2 separate regions of the Homo sapiens genome follow, and region 2 is linked to region 1. The links come from fine-mapping of genetic effects on gene expression. A gene starts in region 1. The other region holds a variant in brackets. All regions are shown on one strand. Distances are between the middles of the regions. Region 1 holds the start of BUD31 (BUD31 spliceosome associated protein). Region 2 holds the start of MYH16 (myosin heavy chain 16).

Region 1 (10,975 bases):
AGGAATTACAATTCAGCTCAACAAACAGAATGCTGTGATCCAAGCAGAAAAGCAGGTAGTAAAGATTCAGCAGGTACACATGTTAAGACGTGACTTGCTCCTCCTTGGCCTCTGCCATGATGGTGAGGCCTCTCCAACCACATGGAACGGTAAGTCCATTAGATCTCGTTCTTTCGTAAATTGCCCAGTCTCAGGTATGTCTATCAGTAGCGTGAAAATGGACTAACACACCCCCATCTCTACAAAAAATTAGCCAAGCGTTGGTCGGGCGCGGTGGCTCATGCTTGTAATCCTAGCACTTTGGGAGCCTGAGGCGGGTGGATCACAAGGTCAGGCGATCGAGACCATCCTGGCTAACATGGTGAAACCCCGTCTCTACTAAAAATACAAAAAAAAAAAAAAAATTAGCTGGGCATGGTGGCGGGCGCCTGTAGTCCCAGCTACTCCAGAGGCTGAGGCAGGAGAATGGTGTGGACCTGGGAGGCGGAGCTTGCAGTGAGCGGAGATCGCGCCACTGCACTCCAGCCTGGGTGACAGAGCGAGACTCCGTCTCAAAAAAAAAAAAAAGAAAAAAAAGAAAAGAAAACTTAGCCAAGCGTGGCAGTGGATGCCTGTAGTCCCAGCTGCCTGGGAGACTGAGGTGGGAGGAACACCTGAGCCTGGGAGGTGGAGGCTTCAGTGAGCTGTGATTGAACCACTGCACTCCAGCCTGGGCAACAAAGTGAGACCTTGTCTCAAAACAAAAACAAAAAGAAAACAGAACAAAGAATACTTCTGTCTGGAGGTAAAGAATATCTAAACACAAAGTAGGGTTCCTCCTTCCCTCAAAAGTCACCCTTTAGAAGATGAAGTTAATTTACTTTCAAGGACTTGCAAAATCTCTTCTATTCCAGCATGCTCCCATTTCCTTTATTTTGATAAAGAGCTGTTTCGGGAAGACATCTCTCAGCCCAAAATGACCGTGATTACTGCAATAGGCCCATCCAAATCTAAACTGCAAAACAAGTACTGAGTATTTAATAGAAGTTATCTGGTACGAACAGTTTTTTTAAAAAGGGGCAAAGTAATTTAACATTGATTTAATTTAGTAATTACTGCTGGAGGTACGACCTCATAATAACCATGATTAGGTTAGTTACAAGCAAGCATTTCAAAAGCTACTTTAAAAAGTAACTTCAGCTGGGTGTAGTGGCTCATACCTGTAATCCCATCACTTTGGGAGGCCGAGGTGGGTGGATCACTTGAGGCCAGGAGTTCGAGACCAGCCTGGCCAACATGGAGAAACCCATCTCTACTAAAAATACAAAAATTAGCCGGGCATGGTGGCGCATGCCTGTAATCCAAATTACTCGAGAGGCTGAGAGGCAGGAAAATCACTTGAACACGGGAGGCAGAGGTTGCAGTGAGCCGAGATCACGCCACTGCACTGCAGCCTGGAAGACAGAGCAAGACTCCAACTCAAAAAATAAAAATAAAAAAGTCAATTGGTAAGTGGCCACACTGTGATCATATAAGGCCAACAGATGCTTGTGGCTTCAGATAAAATTTCCAAAGACAGCATAGGACACGGGTTCACAAAGCAGGATCACACGCCATTTACAAGGAAGTGACAGAAAACAGATGCGGCAAAGACTAATCGATGATACTGAAAAGGAATAGCACTTCCAAGTAAATATATTTTGTATGATTTTAAATATATATCTAACCAAAATAGTAAATAACTATAGGTAGACTATTTGATCTATATTTCATAACCTTTTATATTCGAGTTGGCAAAAACAAAAACAAAAAAAAACACCTTTTCTGAGGACCTTTTCATTAATGTTATCTTATTTTCGGGCACTTACAGTATTTCCCCAAGTTCATAAGCAAACACAACATGTCAGTGTTAGTAGACCACTCTCTTTTTATATTTGCATTTATGCCTGTCCCCTGGGGGCATCTAAGCCTGTGACCCTTGGACCCAGCCCACCCAGACAGGAACTCCCCTACTCACCTTCTCTCATCTTTTGATCTAATTCATCCAGTGTTGGCTCAATCAACTCCCAGCCATCTGGGGGTGCTTTCCGGCTTCTTTTGACTTTAGGCATTTTCCTTCCACAGGATAATCTGCAAAGATCTGGGGGAAAAAAATGAATTGGTTTCTGAGTCTCAAATCCCCAAAGGCCTTTGCCAGCCATTATTTCGGTACAGGCTGACTTCCTTGAGTCAGCATAGGGTCACAGCTATGGGACAGGGCTCAGCACCCAGACTGTGTTCAAATCCTGGCTCTGCTACTTACCCGCTGTGATCTTCAGAAAGGTACTTAACCTTCCTAAGCCTCTGTTTCCTCATCTGTAAAATGGGGATAATGGAAGCTACCTTATGTGGTCATTGCAAAGACTTCATTAGAATTGTATCTATCATGCCTGGTGTATAATGTGTGCCTAAGAGACATTTGCTGTTGTCATTAGCTAACTTCAACTAAAAGCTTAACCCTATACTGGATGTTGGGAACACAGAACAAAAGTTAAGCCTTTGCCCCTTAGAAGGTGACATTTTAGCAAAGAGACAGACAAGAGAAAAAGCAATTACAATAGAGTATAAGGAGGGCTGTGACTCGGGGAGCCATGGGGGTGAGTATTTAAAAAGGCAAAGATGGAAGGTCAGGCACGGTGGCTCATGCCTGTAATTCTGGTCTTGGCCAGCACCTTGGGAGGCTGAGATGGGAGGATCACTTGAGCCCAGGAATTTGAGACCAGTCTGAGCAATGAGGTGAAACCCTATCTCTACCAAAAAAAAAAAAAAATCAAAAAAATTAACTGAGCATGGTGGTGGGTGCCTGTGGTCTGAGCTACACGGAAGGCTGAGGCAAGAGGATCACTTGAGCCCAGGAGGTTGAAAGTCTTCAGTTAGCCATGTTCACACTACTGCACTCCAGCCTAAGTGACGGAGTGAGACCATGTCTCAATAACAAACAAAACAAAACAAAACATAAAATAAAAAGGGAAAGATGACTGTAAAATCAAAGTACCTTAGGATGTGCTTTCCAAGAGTATAGACAGCAGAAAGATCTCTCGTCTCTGCAGTTGCAGGCTTGGATTCTTGTTCAGCTCTAAAAAATTATTCTGTGACTTTCAGGTCACCTTCCCTCTCTGGTCCTGTTTCTTCTGTAAAATGAGGGCAGTGGATTGGCTGATTGCCAAGGTCTCTTTCACACCAAACAACATATTACATAAAGTCAGGTAGTTCCCATACAAGAGGCCGATCCCAATCTAAATAGCAAAGCGTTTTTCAAACCACACAGCATTTCCTTGCTGCCAGAGAGAACCCAGGTTAAGTATTTACCTTTCAGCATAACAGATTCATCTCTCTCAAATTCATTCAGTCACTCCCTTCTGTACTGACACTTTACAAAGACCCACCCCCCCCCCGCCCACAGAGCCTCCTCTCATGAACTCTCTAAAACAACCATATAGAGGAGGAATCAAACTCTATAAGGTAGAATCAGGGTCACACAGCTGAGAATTTGCAAAACCTGACTCTGGAGGGCTCCTGACTCCCAAATCAGTGGTCTTCGCACTAGTCTCCCCTACGCTGAAGCTAAAAATAGGTGAATTCTGGTCTCGGCCCCAAGGCGCATAGTCTGTGACAAGAGAATGATCGCTTTTCTACGACCCAGGGAAATTCGAGGGCCCTGATCCAGCCTGGAAGTCAGAAGAGGCCTCTCGGAGGTGAAAATGGTAGGCGGTAACCAGATCGAGGAGAAAGAGGACGTAGGAGGTAATCAGATCGAGAAGAAAGATGTGCCGGGAGGTGTAAGAGAGATTGGGGCGCTAGGGGAAGGAGGCGAGGAGGAGCGAAGGAAGATAGTGCAGGATTGTAGGGAAAACTCATAAAAAGGACAGCATCTGAACCCAGCTTAGAAAAACAATCAGAACACAGAAGACGTTCCTACCAGAGGAAACGGCGCGAGAATCCTAGAGGAAAACCCCCAAATCTACCGTCCCCTCAGAAGAACGAACGTGGCGCCGCCTCCTCTCGGGAGCTCTCTCCGGCCTCAAGGTCCAAAGCCCGAACACATCCCAGTGGCTGGCTGAGAGTCCAGCCACTCATATCTCCCTCCAGGACGGTGCAGACCACCGGTCTCCCGCCTCAGCCGTTGCCAAGGTAATCGAGAACAGAGGGAAAACACATACCGGAAGCTCCTGGAGCTTGGGTAGCTGCTTCTCGACAGAAGGCTTCCGCTCTTCAGGCGATCTCTAAGGCATGAGGTCCTTGCGGAGCCCCGCCCTACCCGCGCGGAGATTGCGTCATCTTAGGTGTCCTCAGCAATGCCTGTATAGAATTCCAGAGCCGCTGTTGCCATTTGCCCTCACTTCCGGTGGGTGGCAGGCAGGGCCACGCGTCTTCCCGAACGGAGAGACTAGGGGCGTTGTTGCCTGGCAGCAGACGGGCAAGCCTGGACTTAGGCGGCGCGCAGGACGGTCCGACTTCGTGCGGAGGCCTCCCTGAGGTCCGGGTCCTTGCGGCCACTGCGGCCACTGAAGCGGCGGCGGCGGCTGGCCCAGGAGGAAGAAGTCGAGCCCAAGCTATTTCCGGTTCCGGTGTCAGTTCGAGGCGCCGCCGCCGCCGCCGCAGCCGCCGGAGCCGCAATGCCTAAAGGAGGTGAGGGGCGGGCGCCGGTGGCCCGCAGGCCTGGAGGGGCGGCCCAGGTCCGGCTTCCGCTGTCCCCTCAGCCCGTGCGCGTCTCTGAGAGCAGCGCAGAGGGAGGCTGTCCGCACCGGCTGAGAGCCAGGCCTGGGCCTCGACGCCCAATTGTCCCGATGGGGAAACTGAGGACTGTGGTGTCCCAGAGTCACTCCGTCAGTGGTCTGAGGAGTTTCGGAAGCTCTGGGTCCTCGCCGGCCTAGAAAGCCGGATCTAGGATGCGCTTCTCCGGGTCTAGGGGTTCTGGAATTTATCCCACTCTTTGGCTGGCTAGGAACTGAGTCACCGCGTCCCGCGCTTGTGCCGGGCCCGCCTGCCTCTCGCGTAAAACGTGGGCTTTTTCTGGCTTCGGTTCAGCCAGGCCTGCCTAGGAGGACTTAAGGAGATGCCCATGAGCCTTCCAGACCTGGTTTCGACTCCCCCGTTCGGTAGCGGCTCGGTGTGTTCCTTTGAGCCAGTCGCTCCACCTCCTGTGTCTCCGTTTTCTCATTTGCCAATGGGAATAACGATTGTACCTACCTCTTAGTACTGTTGGGAGGCTTCAACTAGGTAATCCACGTGGAGTGCGCAGTACAGTGCCAGGCAGTCGTTAAAAGTGCCCAGTGAAGCAGTAACTATTCTTATTTTTAAGGCTTTGCCAGCTCTTGATCTTGTAAGTAGGTTCATGACTGCCCAGTCCATTGTAGCCCGTCCTCTATCTTCTAGCCCGTTCTCTATCCTGTTTCCCCCTTTAGAATCGATAGTCCCCAGTTTGAATCCCAGCTATGTCACGTCTAATTCTGTGGCCCTGAACAAGTTAACCTCTTCCTCATCTGAAACACTGGGCTAATCCTTAGCTTGTTGAATTGGGGCCGGGGTGGTAAAATTATAGCGCTCATAAAGTGCCTGGCCACCTCCTGGCACAGAACAAATATATTTGTGTTGGTAGCTCATGTGTTATATTGGTTAATGCACTCAACCCACAGAAACATCTGCCTGTAGCGTTTTCAAACCTAAATCGCTTCCTGACTCCAGAGATAATTGGGCATTACAGAGCTAAATGTGTTTAAACCTAGCTCTCTACTGATTTATTCTGTGGCTGGAAAAGTCTCTCTGCTATTGTTCCCCAGTCCCTTCATCTGTAAAAGGAGGTTGCTGAATGAGCCATCCTCCCTCCGAAGTTTTACTTAATGGATACTTTGGGTAAAGGTTGGAGGTTACAACGATAAAACCTTAAATATGAATTCATAGCTAAATGGTCTTTGGGCTTGTGAAAAGCTTTTTGGGGTAGACAAGGTTTACATTTTCTTGGGTTAATCTGAAAACCACAAAAAACCGTGAAGGTGTTAAAAGTATCAAACTCCCTAAGAGCAAAGGACCAACGCTTGTTTCCATTATGTTAAGTGCAAATCGTTTTTTAAAGTCTTGAAGAGTCTACTATAAAATTACTGTGGACCAAGCTAAGGTCAGGGTCCCATAGCCAAGTGCATGAGAGGAGAGCCTATAGTAATCAATTTTGAGTTGTTACTGTTGCCTGGTGTATTAAGAGAGCAAGAAAGGGTGTTGGTTTTTTTCTTGGCACACTTGCTCTCTCACAATAGGACTTTAATAAGCATAGACTTAGACACCCCTGGGAACCTAGGTAGTCATTAAAAATGGGTGGTGTGATCTTTAGCAGCCCAATTATGGCTTTGCAGCTGCTGTAAGGAATCAGAGGAGGCCAGTATCTCTGCTACCGCCTCTGGAGTGCAGAGCAACTCTGGCTGATTACAGAGTCTCTGCTCACAGAGACAGACTATGGAAATCAGGTGGGCCTCAGCTTCCTGTGTGGAAGTTGAGGCCACAGCCACCCTTGCATACTTGGGGACCAGCAGAGGGGGATGCCACCTTGCTTTAAAACTGGCTGATGGCTTAAGCAAGGGTCAGCCTGGTGTTCTGGCTGAAGAGGGTCAGACTATAAAACTGACACTTTAACTGCTAGTCACATTTTTAACTTTTAGACTGTGTAGTCAGGTTTGTTTTCATCTGTACTTTGCCAGTCATTTCTTAGTCTAAGCACAAAGTTTTTGCCTGTAGGTTTGGGTTTCTTTTTTTTCCCTTAAGTATTCTCTTTTTGCCATACTACTAAGGTGAACACAAGGTATTTTATTGTGTTTCCAACATCTGCAGTAAATTGCTTATGTGCTCAGTGGTGCTTTTGTTGTTGTTTTTCCACCAAATACTAGATTAGAGGGAAAAGTAACGAACAGCGATTTTTTTATTTTTTTGAGACGGAGTCTCGCTCTGTGGCCCAGGCTGGAGTGCAGTGGCTCAATCTCGGCTACTGCAACCTCTGCCTCCTGGGTTCAAGCGATTCTCCTTTCTCAGCCTCCCAAGTAGCTGGGATTACAAACATGTGACACCATGCCCAGCTAATTTTTGTATTTTTAGTAGTGAGGGGGTTTCACCATGTTGACCAGGCTGGTCTTGAACTGGCCTCAAGTGATCTGCCCGCCTTGGCCTCCCAAAGTGCTGGGATTACAGGCATCAGCCACTGTGCCTGGATATTAGCGAACATTTTTGTAGTGCTTATTCAGTAGCAGGCACTGTTCCAGCAGCTTTCTGTATATTGATTAATTCATCTATCTTTGTGACAACCCTGTAAGGTAGGGACACAGATGAGGAAACTGAGACTGAGAGGTTAAATACCTGCCCAAAGTCATCAAGCCAGTAAGCGTAGAACCTGGGAGTTGGACTCTAAACTTCGTGGTGTTTCGCAGTCTGCTTTGGTCTAAGTCTCCTGGTCTATGAAATGGGACCAGCTATCACCCCTGTACCATAGGTTTGTTCCGAGGATCAACTGTGCCCCTGGCTGGCTGGGCGCGGTGGCTCACACCTGTAATCCCAGCACTTTGGGAGGCTGAGGTGGGCAGATCACGAGGTCAAGAGATCAAGACCATTCTAGCCAACCAACATGGTTAAACCCCATCTCTACTAAAAATAAATAAATAAGCTGGGCATAGTGGTGCACGCCTGTAGTCCCAGCTACTCGGGAGGCTGAGGCAGGAGAATCACTTCAACCAGGGTGGTGGAGGTTGCGGTGAGCCGAGATTGCGCCACTGCACTCCAGCTTGGGTGACAGAGCGAGACTCCGTCTCAAAAAAAAAAAAAAAAAAGTGCCCCTGGCTGTGACAGAACATCGTGTAAAAAGCCCTTATAGTGACGGCAGGGATGTAAGTGGTACATGTTTCTGTGGTTGCATCTGAGTCCACTATGCTTGGATTGTAAGGGACCAGGGGATGTAGCAAGTCATTGCAGTGCACCGTCCGCCATGTTCTCCCCTCCGGTCTTCTGTGTAGGAGCCAGCATTTAGTACACAGTTTGGTGATGCATCAGATGGTCACGAGTTGCTTCCTGCGTGCCTTTGAACACATGAGGGTGGCGGAGGTGTCGGTTTGGGTGGTGCTGGGTGAGGGGTAGGTGAGGCCTCCGATGAGAGTACTCCAAGCAGGACACAGCCCTCTGGGGGTCAGAGCAGTCAAGGCAGCTGCTTCCGCTCACCTAAACTGCGGGTCTCTGCAGGAAGAAAGGGAGGCCACAAAGGCCGGGCGAGGCAGTATACAAGCCCTGAGGAGATCGACGCGCAGCTGCAGGCTGAGAAGCAGAAGGCCAGGGTGAGTACGTGCCTGTCCAGGCCACGCCAGTGGCCCAGGGTGGCGCTTTGCCAATTTGGTTCATAGAGAGGCCAGGCAAGGACTACCCATTCGCAGGGACAAGCCAGCACGTGGGGGTCGGGCGGGCAGTGAGCCCCAGGTGTGAGTCTCAGAACAACCAATGACAGTCAGGGCGTGGGCATCCTCTGCCTGGATGGGTTAGAAAGAACTGTGGCTGCTCTGCAGCAGCTGCTTTAGTGGGGCCCTGTTCTTGGTCTTGTGCACCTACTTTCAGGAGGATCTCCCTCCTGCAGGACCTGTCCATTCACAGCTCGAGCTCCCAGCACCCCTGCTTGTCTGCTGCAGCCACACAGGATGATTTGCCACACTGCACATGACATATGCCCTGCCTTCCCACACCCCCAGCATCAGCATGCTCTCCATCCCTGGAGACGTTGTTTAGCCTCTCCTCCTCTGTGACTCATGCCTCACCTCCAGCCAGAGCTGATTTAGTAGTTCCCTCTCCTCTGCTCCCATAGTACATTGTCCAGGCCACCGTTAGGAAATAGAATACATTCCCATCGTCAGCATCTGCATCTTACCATATCATTAGATTGATGCCTGGATCAAGGGCCTAAGGGAGCAGTCAGGGCCAGATGGGTACACAGCTGTGACGTACCCCAGGAGTCTCAAGAAGGGAAAGGCCACATCCAGCTGTGGGGTCTGGGAGGGGTCCTTGGGGGAGCCAGCAGCTGAGCAGGACATGGAGAATGTGTGGGCAGGTGCCAAGAGGTGAAGGGACATGAGGTTCCTATAAGGGACATTTTTGGTGGGAAGGCAAGAAAGGTGGAGGGAAGCAGCCTTCCGAGGTGTTGTTCTGGGGAGCTGGTGCAGGAGGTCACCTGTGTGGGTGGGTCGGGGGGATGACTTGCCATGGAGTGGGAGTGGAGTGCGGAGAGGACTCGCCTGGGAATGCCAGCATGATTTGGCAGCTGCATGTGGCAGGTGGGAGCTGAGTAGGATGGTGGTTTTCAGCCTGGTGGCTGAGTCCTTCTGACCCCAGGAAACAAGCTTCTCACCCTGGCTGCTGAGGTGGCTGCGTTAGGAAGGGGAGCAGGGCCTTCTGTGGCTGTGTGAGGGGCTTCCTGGACTATGGGAATGGCCTCTAAGCTGTGGTGCTAAGTGCATAGGCTGCCTGTGTCTGGCCCAGGTCCCATTCCCTGGGGGCCAGGGTCACAGTAGGACCCTTGTCATCCTTGGTTCCAGCCTTCCAGAGGCTTGATTTCTCAAGATCCACAGTCTGGGGGGTGATAGGGTCACAGTCTTGGGGATTTGTTTTGCATTTTTGATTCTGCAGGTTGTCCATTTCTGAAACAGGAAGAAGAGGAGCAAAAAGAAGGTGGAGATGGGGCTGCAGGTGACCCCAAAAAGGAGAAGAAATCTCTAGACTCAGATGAGAGTGAGGATGAAGAAGATGACTACCAGGTACTGAGTTCTTTTGAGGGCCTAGAGCCTGGACTCATTCATTCAACAAACAAACGTTGAGTGACCGTTTAGTACTAGTCCCAAAGGTAGATGCAGACAACGTCCTTGCTCTTGAGGGTTTACACTACGGGAGATACAACAAAGAAGTAAACAGACAGTGTCATTTCAAGTAATGAGAAGTGTTACTAACAAAACAGACTGTGATTGAGGGGACTTGGAAAAGTGTTGTGGTGGTGAAGCAACTTATAAACTGAGATCTGAAAAAACAAGATGCAGCCAGCTATGTGAAAATTGGCGTGCAGAGCAATTGAGAAACTGGATTAGCAAGTGCAAAGGTCCTGTGGTGGGAATAAGCTTGGCATGTTCAAGGACCAGAAGGGGGCCAGTGTAGCTGTGAGTTAGTGGGTAAGGAGCGGAGTGGTCCAGATGCAGGAGGAGAATTGGCAAGGGCACCTCCTGTGTAGCTGTTGAAGGGGTTGGCATTTCTTTTCTTTTCTTTTCTTTTTTTTTTTTTTTTTTGAGATGAAGTGTCGCTTTGTCACTGAGGCTGGAGTGCAGTGGCACGATCTCAGCTCACTGCAACTTCCGCCTCCCAGGTTCAAGCGCTTCTGCCCCAGCCTCCTGAGTAGCTGGGACTACAGGCGCCTGCCACCACGCCGGGCTAATTTTTTGTATTTTTAGTAGAGACAGGGTTTCACTGTGTTAGCCAGAATGGTCTCCATCTCCTGACCTCGTGATCCACCCGCATCAGCCTCCCAAAGTACTGGGATTATAAGCGTGAGCCACTAGCCCAGCCCCCTTTTTTTTTTTTTTTTTTTTTTTTTGAGACAGGGTCTCGTTCTGTCACCCAGGCTGGAGTGGAGTGAAGCTGCAGTGAAGCACCGCAGCCTCAGCCTTCCAAGTAGCTGGGACCAAAGGCACACGCCACCACATCTACCTAATTTTTAAATTTTTTGTAGAGATAGGGATCTCACTATATTGCCCAGGTGGTCTCCAACTCCTGGGCTCAAGTAATCCTCCCACTTCACCCTCCTGAGGTGTTGAGATTGCAGCAGCATGAGCCACCATGCCTGGCATGGGGTTTCTTTATGGTAGGTAGTGGCAGCTGGGGGAGGCCTTGAAGGGATTGAGAGACATGACCAGATATGCTTTTTTTTTTTTTTTTTTTTGGGAGATGGAGTCTCTCTGTC
Region 2 (10,975 bases), 130 kb after region 1:
AGGTACACACTGCAATGCCCAGCTAAGTTTTTTATTTTTATTTTTGAGACAGAGTCTCACTCTGTCACCCAGGCTGGGGTGCAGTGGCACAATCATGGCTCACTGCAGCCTCGACCTTCTAGGCTTAAGCAATCCTCCCACTTCAGCCTCCTGAGTAGGTGGGACTACAGATGTGCCACCACACCCGGCTAATTTTTAAACTTTTTTGTAGAGATGGGGTTTCACTATGTGGCCCAGGCTGGTCTTGAACTCCTGGGCTCAAGCATTCCTCCTGCCTTGGCCTCCCAGAGTGTTGGGTTTATGGGCATGAGCCATTGCACCTGGCCCAGGAGGATTCTTCCATCACTTTGGTCTTGCCCAGCCTCAGCCTTCACAAACAAAATGGGGATATCAGTTCAAGCAACTTCTCAGGGGTATGAAGAGGATACAGAGAAATGATGTTGGAGGCCTTTGGGGACAGTGGAAGGAAAATGCAAGCACCACACATGCTCACGGCTACAGAGATGGCCGTGGCAGAGCAGGGAGGACTGGAGATGGAATTGGGCCCCTTCCAGGGCTGGGTTTTCTACCAATGGGCCTGGGACTTTGATCAAATCTCTAAATGTCTGCCAAACTGAGTTTTCTACCCTGTACGATGCACGTGAAAATCGAGTGTCTTACAGGGCGGCTGTGAGAGTAAAATCAGGGAAGGAATAGGAAAAGCTTTGCAAACCAGAAGGACCCCAGCAGTGAATTCACTGCAGGACATTTAGTCAGGCGCCCTACAGAAATGACATCGTTTATTCTTTCTTGCTGTGTTTCCCTGGACAGGTGAGGAAAACAAGGCTTGGAGTGGGTAAGTTGCCAAGTTTGTATGGCAGAGCCCAGCCCTGACTCCAGGGGATGCTGTTCTCACCCCATCTCGTGGCCACCATCCCTGGACTTTCCCTGCAGGTGGGTCCTGTAGCTGTGTGTGCCCAGCCTGCTGCTGTGTGCAAATAAGAATTTGATGGAGGCTGGGCACAGGGGCTTACACCTGTAATCCCAGCACTTTGGGAGGCCGAAATAGGAGGATCACTTGGGGCTGGGAGTTTGAGACAAGCCTGGGCAACATAGTAAGACCCTGTCTCTACAAAAAATTAGCCAGGCATGGTGGTGTAGTCCCAGCTACTCGGGAGGCTGAGGTGGGAGGATCACCTGTGTCCAGGAGATGGAGGCTGCTGTGAGCTGTGATCGAGCCACTTCACTCCAGCCTGGGCAACACAGCAAGACCATGTCGCTGTCTGTCTGTCTGTCTGTCTGTCTGTCTGTCTGTCTGTCTCTCTCTCTCTCTCTCTCTCACACACACACACACACACACACACACACACACACACACGAATTGGATGGAGACTTTTTGGAAGTTGGGTCGAGGGTGACTTTGTATGCTGGAGAATTTCCCGTGGTCTGGAGGGACATGGGTTTTTGGAAGAGCTCGCCCTTCCTCCCTCCCAGGGTCCAGGCTGTATGGGTTTCCCACCCTTCTCCCTGGGGACCCCACGTACAGCCTGCAGCTGGATGGTGAGGTCATTCTTCTCCTGGCTGAGCGTGGCTGTCTTCTCCTCCAGTTCCTTGACCTTGTTTACCAACTCCTGGGTTTGGGCCATGGCTTTCCTGAGCTCCTCCTCCTTGGCCTTCATCTCCTCTTCTTGCCGAGCCACATTCAGGAGTGGCTTGACCTGGGCAATGAGCAACACCAAAGAGTGTTAGGAGAATGGGGTTTGCTGGGGGGTAGACGGAGGGCTGTGGAGTCTCTGCCTCAGGCGTGACCTCACAGCACCACTGTGGTGGGAAGCAGCTCTTGCTGTAGCTCTGCGGGTGGGGTCCCTCTCCACAGATGCCACCAGGCTGAGCTCCTTGTGTAAAGCATCCCTGGCCTCAACAGAGAAGGCCCATCCTCCCCTAGGACAATTCTTAGGATGCTCTTTAATCCTGAGGGACATGGAGTTAGGTGTCCTCGGCATCTGGGTGACCCAAGGCTTACATCTGTTCTGCATGTTGTGTAGACACCAGGAGCCCCAGTGAAATGCACAGCCTTGGGGTCCCCTCCCTCCTTCCTTCCCTACTGAGTCCTCCCACCTCTGGCTCTCTGTTTCTGTCTCTGTCTGCCTCATTTTGCTGTCTCTCTCACTCGCCCACTGTTTCTCTCTCTCTCTCTGTGTCTCTCTCTCTCTCTGTGTCTCTCTCATGCCATTCCTATCTCTGCCTCTCTTCTCAGTCTCTGTTGCTCTGCTCTCTCTTTTTCTCTCTCCGTGTTTCTGTTTCTGTCTTTCTCTCTGTCTCTTTCTCTGTCTCATCTCTGTCTCTCTTATCTCTGTCTCTCTCTCTGCCTGTCTCTCTGTTGTGCTGTCTCTCTCTCTCTCATTTTCTGTGTCTTTCTCTTTGTTTTTCTCTATGTGTGTGTGTCTCTCTCCATCTCTTACTCTCCCTCTCTCTCTCTCACTCCTTTCATCTTCTGTCTAACATGAAGTCACACCTCTCGACTTGGCCTTGCAGGCCTTCCACAATGTAGCCCCTGCCCTCCTCCTGCACTGTGTCAGCTGATACTTCCCACCATGGCCAGTGCCCCTGCACCTGTGTCTATAGGGCTGGGCCTTCTTTGCCATTCAGCCGGGAGCATTTGCTCGTGCTCTGCACCCGCAGCACCCATCGGGACCTCTCTGTGCACTTGGCCCTTCTCACCTGCACTGGAGCGCCAGGCTCCGTCCGGTCCTACCACCTGTATTCTGCCCTGCATCTGCAAGCCCCTCAAAGACCTCCCTCCCATCCCTTTGGGGTTCCTAAAGCACCTAGCAGAGCTGGTGGGGCAGGTCCCCTGGGAACCACAGAAACATTATACCATAGATACAATAGATACATAGTCAATAGATACATTTCCCAGGAGGGAAAATGCCCTAGACATGGATTTGGGAGGAGGGACAGCCTGCGCCTCTTTTGAAAGATAACAGATAAACCTCGTTCATTGCCAGCCTGGCTGTTGAGAATCTGAGATGTCACAGTGGCAAAGCTGGCATGAAAAGGTTGCAGTAACCACCATACTTTGCCGCTGTGTAGCACTTTTTATTCAATGGAAACCTACTACAAGTGTTTTTTCATTGACCCAGCCTATCTGGCTTTGTTAAATAATATTAGAGCTTAGTTAGAATACTAAGAGGAGAGGATTTAGAACAACAACAACAAAAACTAAAAAGGCCGGGCGCAGTGGCTCACGCCTGTAATCCCAGCACTTTGGGAGGCCAAGGCGGGCAGATCACCTGAGGTCAGGAGTTCAAGACCAGCCTGGCCAACATGGTGAAATCCCGTCTCTACTAAAAATACAAAAAATTAGGCGTGGTGGCAGGCGCCTTAATCCCAGCTACTCGGGAGGTTGAGGCAGGAGAATCGCTTGAATCCGGGAGGCGGAGGTTGCAGTGAGCCAGATCATGCCCCTGCGCTCCAGCCTGAGCAACAGAGCAAGATTTTGTCTCAACAACAAGAAAAACTAATTAGAACAGGACCTTGTTCTGTCAGGTCTAATTAGTAACAAGCAGGGGAGTTTACAGCTGTTGCTACCATGTCTTGCTCAGAAGGAACCTTAAAGGCCATTGGCCTGGGTCTTCCCAGAGTCTAATTGTATACCAAGGGATCTGGTGAGATGCATTCAAGCATAGACACCCTTTGATTAGAGTTGTGACATAGTTACTTTAATAGGCAATTTAAAAAATGAAAACTCAAATCCACAATTTTGTGGGTAACATTTGCTTAGGATGAGATTAAAGCAGGTAAGACTACAAAGTTTCCTTTTAAAGTAAAAGTTGTGGCTGGGCACAGTGGCTCACGCCTGTAATTCCTGGAGGCTGGGGAGGATCACTTGAGATCAGGAGTTTGAGACTGGCTGGGGTAATGTAGCAAGACGCTGTCTCTACAAAAAATTTAAAAATGAGCTGGGCGGGCGCTGTGTACCTGTAATCTCAGCCATTTGGGAGGCTGAGGTGGGAGGATTGCTTGAGGCCAGGAGTTTGAGACCAGCCTGGGCAACATAGCAAGACCCTGTCTCTTCAAAAACAAAAATTAAAAATTAGCTGGGCATGGTGGCACACACCTATAGTCTGAGCTATTCGGGAGGCTGAGGTGGAAGGATCGCTTGAGCCCGGAGTTAGAGGCTGCAGTGAGCTATGATTGCATCACTGCACTCTAGCCTGGGCAACAGAGTGAGACCCTGTGTCAAAAAAAAATTTTTTTTTTCCAAAATAAAAAAGCGAGGCCAGGTGCAATGACTCACATCTATAATCCCAGCAGCACTTTGGGAGGCCAAGGCGGGTGGATCACCTGAGGTCAGGAGTTTGAGACCAGCCTGGCCAGCATGGTAAAACCCTGTCTCTACTAAAAATACAAAAATTAGCCAGGTAGGGTGGCAGATGCATGTAATCCCAGATACTCAGGAGGCTGAGGCAGGAGAATAACTTGAACCCGGGAGGCGGAGGTTGCAGTGAGCTGAGATTGTGCCCCTGCACTCCAGCCTGGGTGACAGAGTGAGACTCCGTCTCAAAAAAAAAAAAAAAAAAAAAAGTGAATTAATGTAAAGAAAGGTGAGTCATGGAACAGGCGGGGAAAGCCAGGCGGCACCGGCAACGCCTGGCCTTTGAGACATGCTCACCTAGATTCCTCTCCAATCCCAGGTCCTCCAGGGCCGGCCTGTGTGTGGATACATTTGGGGAAGCAGAACTTACTATTCCTCCCTTTCCATCTGTGGTGGGTGCTGATTGTTAGCTAGTTCTTTCCCATGGGGGAGTGTAAAGAAACTTCCTTGTGAGCTATGGAGGACTCAGGGCCACCCGAGATGACTCAGAGCCTGTCCCCACCCTCTGCGGGTCCTCCTTTCTCCTGAACATAGCTGCCTGGTGCCTGACTCCCTCTTCTGGTGCCCAGAGACATGTCCCTCTTAATGGTGGCCCCAGCACAGGCATGATTGGACCCATGTGCAGTGCCATGGCTGGTGGCCTCCTGCCTTGGTTGAGGGTGGCCTGGCTGCTTGGGACCTCTGTGGGTCCCACCACCTGGCTGACTCACATACCATACTCATTGCTGTTTCGGAAGAACAGGAAATGAGAGGTCGGACCTTATCATTTCCTGAGGTTCCCCCAGCTCTAAGCCAAGAACTCACTGGAGTTGAAGATGCCTCAACATGCCCAGGGGCAAGGAGTCAATAATCAAGCTCACTTTTTTTGGTGGGGGTGGTATGGCGCTCTCCATCTTAAGTGGATTTTATTTTGAGGGATGAGATGGAAGGCAGAAAGACACTTGCTCTCCTTTCCTTTCCTCTCTCCCTTCCTTTCCTCTCTCCCTTTCATCTCTCCCTTCCTTTCCTCTCTCCCTTCCTTTCCTCTCTGTCTTCCTTTCCTCTCTCCCTTCCTTTCCTCTCTGTCTTCCTTTCCTCTCTCCCTTCCTTTCCTCTCTCCCTTCCTTTCCTCTCTTTCTTACTTTCCTCTCTCTCTTCCTTTCTTTTCTTTTGAAATGGGGTCTCACTGTGTTGCCCAGGCTGGTCTCAAACTCCTGGCCTCAAGCAATCCTCCTGCCTCAGCCTCCCAAAGGGCTGGGATTACAGGTGTGAGCCACTGTGCCCGCCCCATGATTTTTCTTAGGGAGGAATTAGTCCCTGTCTGGACAGAGGCTAGATTTTTGTCTCTAAGGTGCCCTCATTTTCAAACTGTTCTTGCAGCCTCTCACTCCCGAGGGGCATCTCTGTCCAGGATCAAGCCCTCCCCCAGCCCATAGGCAGCAGCAGTCCCCCCTGGCCTGGCCCCTCGGCCCTCACCTTGTTGTACAGCTTCCACCAGCCCCAGAAACGGAGCTGCAGGAACTTGTGCACGTTCTGCTGAATGACTTTCAGGCCCATTCTGCGAAAAGAATCCAGGGTTGAGTGGGTTACAATGAAGGTGTTAGGACCTGGCTTCCCTGGGGAAGGGGTGGGGCCTGGGAATAGAAGCCAGCAGATCTACCTTGTTCAGACACCAAAGTGCCTTCTCGAGACCCAGCATTGCCCATGTGGTCTGCGGCAGGGAGACTCACGTTGGGGTCAGAGCTTAGCAGCACGATAAGGGAGCTGAGGTGAAACCTGATGGAACCAGGTCCCTCCCAGATGGCACAAGGCTGAGACATACCAGTCATTGACTCCTGCATTTTCCCTCCTCCACCAGAAATCACCCATTAGTCTCCAAATCCCATGGATCTGCAAAGTTGCTGGAATCTGCCCGTTTCTTGTTCCCTGCAGCTTCACTCAACTGCCATTTATTGAGGACCTCCTGTGCACCAAGGCCCTGGGCTGAATCAGGCCAAGATCCCTCACATCAGCCCCTAACTGGTATCCCTGCCTTCAGTCCAGGGCTGCAGGTGGCCTGCTGATGGGAACAGGAATTCATTACTAATTCTATGACCACAAAGAAATAGAGTGAATCACAGGTCATCTGGGATGGACCTACCTTTTTTTTTTTTGAGACAGGGTCTCACTCTGTTGCCCAGGCTAGAGTGCAATGGTGCAATTATGGCTCACTGGAACTTTGTACTCCCTGGCTCAAGCAATCCTCCTGCCTCAGCCTCCAAAGTAGCTGGGACTACAGGCATGCACCACCACCTGCGAATTTTTTGTTTCTGTTTTTTTTT[G/TG]TAGAGATGGGGTCTCCCTATCTCCTGTTGCCCAGGCTGGTCTCAAACTCCTGAGCTCAAGTGATCTCCCACCTTGGCTTCTCAAAGTGCTGGGATTACAGGTATGGGCTACCACACCTGGCCAGACCCAGCCCTTTAAAAATTACCAGGTTAGGGAGATGGCTGAAAAACATGGTTCCAAGGGCAGGGATGTGGAGTGAGAATTGCTGAGTTCTAATCCTGGCTCTGCATGAACCTGCCCCAGTTCCTTAACCTCTCAGACCTCAGTTTCCACATCTGTAAAGTGGGGGTGCTGGCCCTACCATGCCCCTCTCATAGCATCATTATGTGAATCAAGTAAGAGGAAGGCTGTGACATGACTTGAAACTATAAAGAGAGGGTTTATATTAGTTGTTTCCTGTTAGGGGTTAAGCTGTGTCCTCCGAAAGGATACGTTGAAGTCCTAACACCCAATACCTAGGAAGGGAACCTTGTTTGGGAATAGGGTCTCAGCAAATGTAACTAGTTAAGATGAGGTGGTCATACTGGAGTAAGGTGGACCCTAATTCAATGACTGGTGTCCATATAAAAAGAGGGAAGATGGGCTGGGCGCAGTGGCTCACGCCTGTAATCCTAACACTTTGAGAAGTTGAGGCAGGTGGATTGCTTGAGCCCAGGAGTTTGAAATGAGCCTAGGCAACATAGGGAGACCTTGTCTCTACCAAAAAAAAAATTAGCCAGGTGTGGTACAGTGCACCTGTAGTCCTAGCTACTCAGGAGGCTGAGGTGGGAGTATCACTCAAGCCCAAGAGGTTGAGGCTGCAGTGAGCTATGATCGCACCACTGTACTCCAGCCTGGGCTACAGAGCAAGACCCCATCCCCCACTCAAAAATAAAATTTAAGGCGATGGATATCCCAGTTATCCTGATTTTATTATATGAATGTATCAAGTTATCACATAAAACCTAAAATATGCATAGCTATTAGGTATCAGTAAAAAAATTTTTAAAAATTCCTGTTGTTTGAAGCCACCCAGTGTGTGAACTTGGTTGCGGCAGCTCTGAGAGACAGGGTTCTTTTTATTTTTTTGAGACGGAGTTTTGCTTCTGTCGCCCAGGCTGGAGTGCAATGGCACGATCTCAGCTCACTGCAACCTCCGCCTCCCGGATTCAAGCGATTCTCCTGCCTCAACCTCCCCAGTAGCTGGGATTATAGGTGCCCACCACCACGCCCAGCTAATTTTTGTATTTTTTGTAGAGATGGGGTTTCACCATGTTGGCCAGGCTGGTCTTGAACTCCCGACCTCAGGCAATCCGCCCGCCTCAGCCTCCCAAAGTGCTGGGATTACAGGCATGAGCCACCGCACCTGGCCAGCCACACAGGGTTCTTTGTGCCAGCAAGACATTGGCATCCACCCCTGGCCCACCACGCAGCATGGCCAGTGGAGCTGGCCCTGAGTGCGTGTGGCTCCTCTGGGCCTTCCTGTCGGTGTTTGTGAGTGCTACCTTCGTTCCAGCATCTTCTTGAACTCCACCCTCATGAGGAAGCCCCGAAGCCGACACTGCAGCATCGTCATGATCTTGGCCAGACGCTCGTCCCTCATGTCCTCAAGCCTGGCCAGGATGCCCGCACGGAAGAACACCTGGGGAAAGACCGCACGCCTTTGAAAAAGCCCGGCTGTCACCGATGGCAGCCACTTGGGGGAGTTTTAAATCAAAGAAGGGTTTTTGTTTGTTTGTTTTGCTGGAGTGCAGTGGCGCGATTACGGATCACTGCAGCCTCAACCTCCCGAGCTTAAGCAATCCTCCCATCTCAGTCTCCCAAGTAGCTGAGACTACAGGCACATGCCACCATGCCTGGCTAAATTTATTATTATTATTGTAGAGATAGGGTCTCACTATGTTATCCAGGCTGAGCCTCCCAAAGTGCTTGGGATTACAGGCATGTGCCACCATGTCCAGCTAATTAAAAAAATTTTTTTCGGCTGGGCGCAGTGGCTCATGCCTGTAATCCCAGCACTTTGGGAGGCCGAGGTGGGTGGATCATGAGGTCAGGAGATCGAGACCATCCTGGCTAACATGGTGAAACCCCATATCTACTAAAAATACAAAAAGCCGGGCGTGGTGGCGGGCGCCTGTAGTCCTAGCTACTCAGGAGGCTGAGGCAGGAGAATGGCGTGAACCCGGGAGGCGGAGCTTGTAGTGAGCCGAGATCACGCCACTGCACTCCAGCCTGGGCAACAGAGCAAGACAGTCTCAAAAAAAAAAAAAAAAAATTTTTTTTTCTGAGATGAGGTCTGGTTATGTTGCCCATAACCAAGGCTGGCCTTGAACTACTGGACTCAAGTGATCTTCCTATCTCAGCCTCCCAAAATGCAGGAATTATAGGCATGAGCCACCATGCCCTGCCTGTTGATGTTTTAAAAATCCCCCCAGGCCAGGCACGATGGCTCACACCTGTAATCCCAGTGCCTTGGGAGGCTGAGACGGGCAGATCAGGAGTTCAAGACCAGCCTGGCCAACGTGGTGAAACCCCGTCTTTATTAAAAATACAAAAAATTAGCCAGGCATGCTGGCAGGTGCCTGTAATCCCAGTTACTCGGGAGGCTGAGGCAGGAGAATCGCTTAAACCCGGGAGGCGGAGGTTGCAGTGAGCCAAGACAGTGCCACTGCACTCCAGCCTGGGTAACAGAGTGAGACTCCGTCTCAAAAAAAAAAAAAAAAAAAAAAAAAAGTGTCCCCAGATGAGTCTAATGTATAGCCAAGGTTGAGAACTTTGTTCTAGAGAAATTCCTGCACAGGACCATGAGCAAGGATGTTCACAGCAGCACTGCAGTACAGTGTGGCAGTGACAATGTCACGTACCAATGAGGATGAAGCTTAGAAACATGGCAAAGCGATAAAAGCACGTCATGGAGGAATGTCACGGAAGGGTGTGTCAAGTATGATACTTCCATGAAGCTCAAAACCAAGCACGACCTGCAGGCATATGTGCTAAAGCTATTTTTGAAAGGTAAGGAAATAAGCCAGGTGGTGTGGCTTATGCCTGTAATCCCAACACTTTGGGAGGCCGAGGTGGGAGGATCACTTGAGCCCAGGAGTTGGAGAACAGCCTTGGCAACATATTGAGACCCCATCTCTATAAAAAATACAAAAATTAGCCAGATGTGGAGGTGTGCACCTGTAGTCCCAGCTACTCGAGAGGCTGAGGTGGGAGAACCGCTTGAGCCCAACAGTTTGAAGCCACAGTGAGCTGTGATCGTGTCACTGCACTCCAGCCTGGGCGACAGAGCAAGACCATGTCTCTTAAGAAAAAAAAAAAAAAAGAGAATGGTTCATGTCAAAATTCAAGACAGGGTTACTCCTGGGGGTAGGGAGGGGATGGGAGAGGAAAGACATGAAAGGTTGACATTCTGGGCTTTTCAGTGGGTTCACAGGGTGCTGGCTTTATTATTATGTTTCATAATGTAACACCTTTTTACAGGCTTCAAATAGGACATAATAGAAACTTTTAGAAGGATAGAAGGTGCCAGGAGACCTGCATTCTGGCCTCAGCCTTCCTTGGATGTGCTGTGTGTCTGACTGTGGTTAAGTCACTGTCCCTTTGGGGGACCTAGGCTTCCCCTCCTGTCCGGACAGAATGCTGCCTGCAGGGCCCCTGGGACCTCTGAGCTGCGGGAACCCAAAATGCCACACGGGGCCAGGGAGTACAGCACCTAACTGAGCCACTGTGGGCAAAAGATGAGGAAGAATGCTCCCTGCCCCTCAAAAGGACCCCCGAGGAGCTAGACATCGCAAGGTAGAGAAATCAGGCTTGATGTCATAAAACATTTCCTGATATTTCAAAATTAATTGGCGTTGAGGTTTAGTCTTTGAAACAAGCATGTGGCTGGGGGTGGGGCCCACCTGAGCCAACTCCAAACATAGGAACACCATTTGCAGTCAGAACCATCCTGTTCTTTGTTCTCCTCCTGCTGCCAGTCTGCCTAGTCCTCAGGGAGCAAAACTGTCCCCAGCAGCCCTGGGCCTTCCCCTGGAACTGACGTGCCTAATGCAACCCTTGTACAACAGCAAGATGCAGTCTGTTTGGCCAGGTGGTAAACGGACAAGATTCTGAGCTGTGCCAGATTCTGAGATACCAGCTCCGGCTTTCCCGGCCACACGACCGCCACTGGTGGGCCTTATGCCGACTAGCTCTGTCCCGCTTCGTTCTGTGAAGTTGGGCATGCCACCTCCACCCCCTCTCCAGGCTTTCTTAAGTTTCCCATCTGTCAAGGGTGGGTAGGGAAAGGAGGGGCCCGTTGGTTTCTAAGATTCTTTCCAGCTCAATTATTCCATG

The links. PIP is the estimated chance that this variant, and not a neighbour inherited with it, causes the effect.
Region 2: its variant is fine-mapped to the expression of BUD31 in whole blood (TOPMed, PIP 0.99).

Annotation. Positions count from the first base shown.
Region 1 is chr7:99,402,208-99,413,182 of GRCh38, reverse strand. BUD31 (BUD31 spliceosome associated protein) reads right to left here and starts at 4,214. Exons shown (of 6, transcript NM_003910.4): 1 at 3,938-4,214; 2 at 3,014-3,149; 3 at 1,997-2,119. The coding sequence starts at 2,090. PDAP1 (PDGFA associated protein 1) reads left to right here and starts at 4,586. Exons shown (of 6, transcript NM_014891.7): 1 at 4,586-4,647; 2 at 8,230-8,321; 3 at 9,678-9,785. The coding sequence starts at 4,635. MIR12119 (microRNA 12119) reads right to left here and starts at 4,011; the gene lies at 3,919-4,011. It overlaps LOC124901707 (a long non-coding RNA gene), which reads right to left and starts at 1,238. Exons shown (of 2, transcript XR_007060451.1): 1 at 1,200-1,238; 2 at 888-994. RefSeq lists an enhancer at 4,158-4,547 and a silencer at 4,758-4,817.
Region 2 is chr7:99,268,261-99,279,235 of GRCh38, reverse strand. MYH16 (myosin heavy chain 16) reads right to left here and starts at 6,397. Exons shown (of 24, transcript NM_001431356.1): 1 at 6,159-6,397; 2 at 5,813-5,894; 3 at 1,524-1,697. The coding sequence starts at 5,893. LOC105375421 (a long non-coding RNA gene) reads left to right here. Exons shown (of 4, transcript XR_927798.3): 4 at 811-1,020. The variant G/TG (reference allele first, on the strand shown) is at 6,658.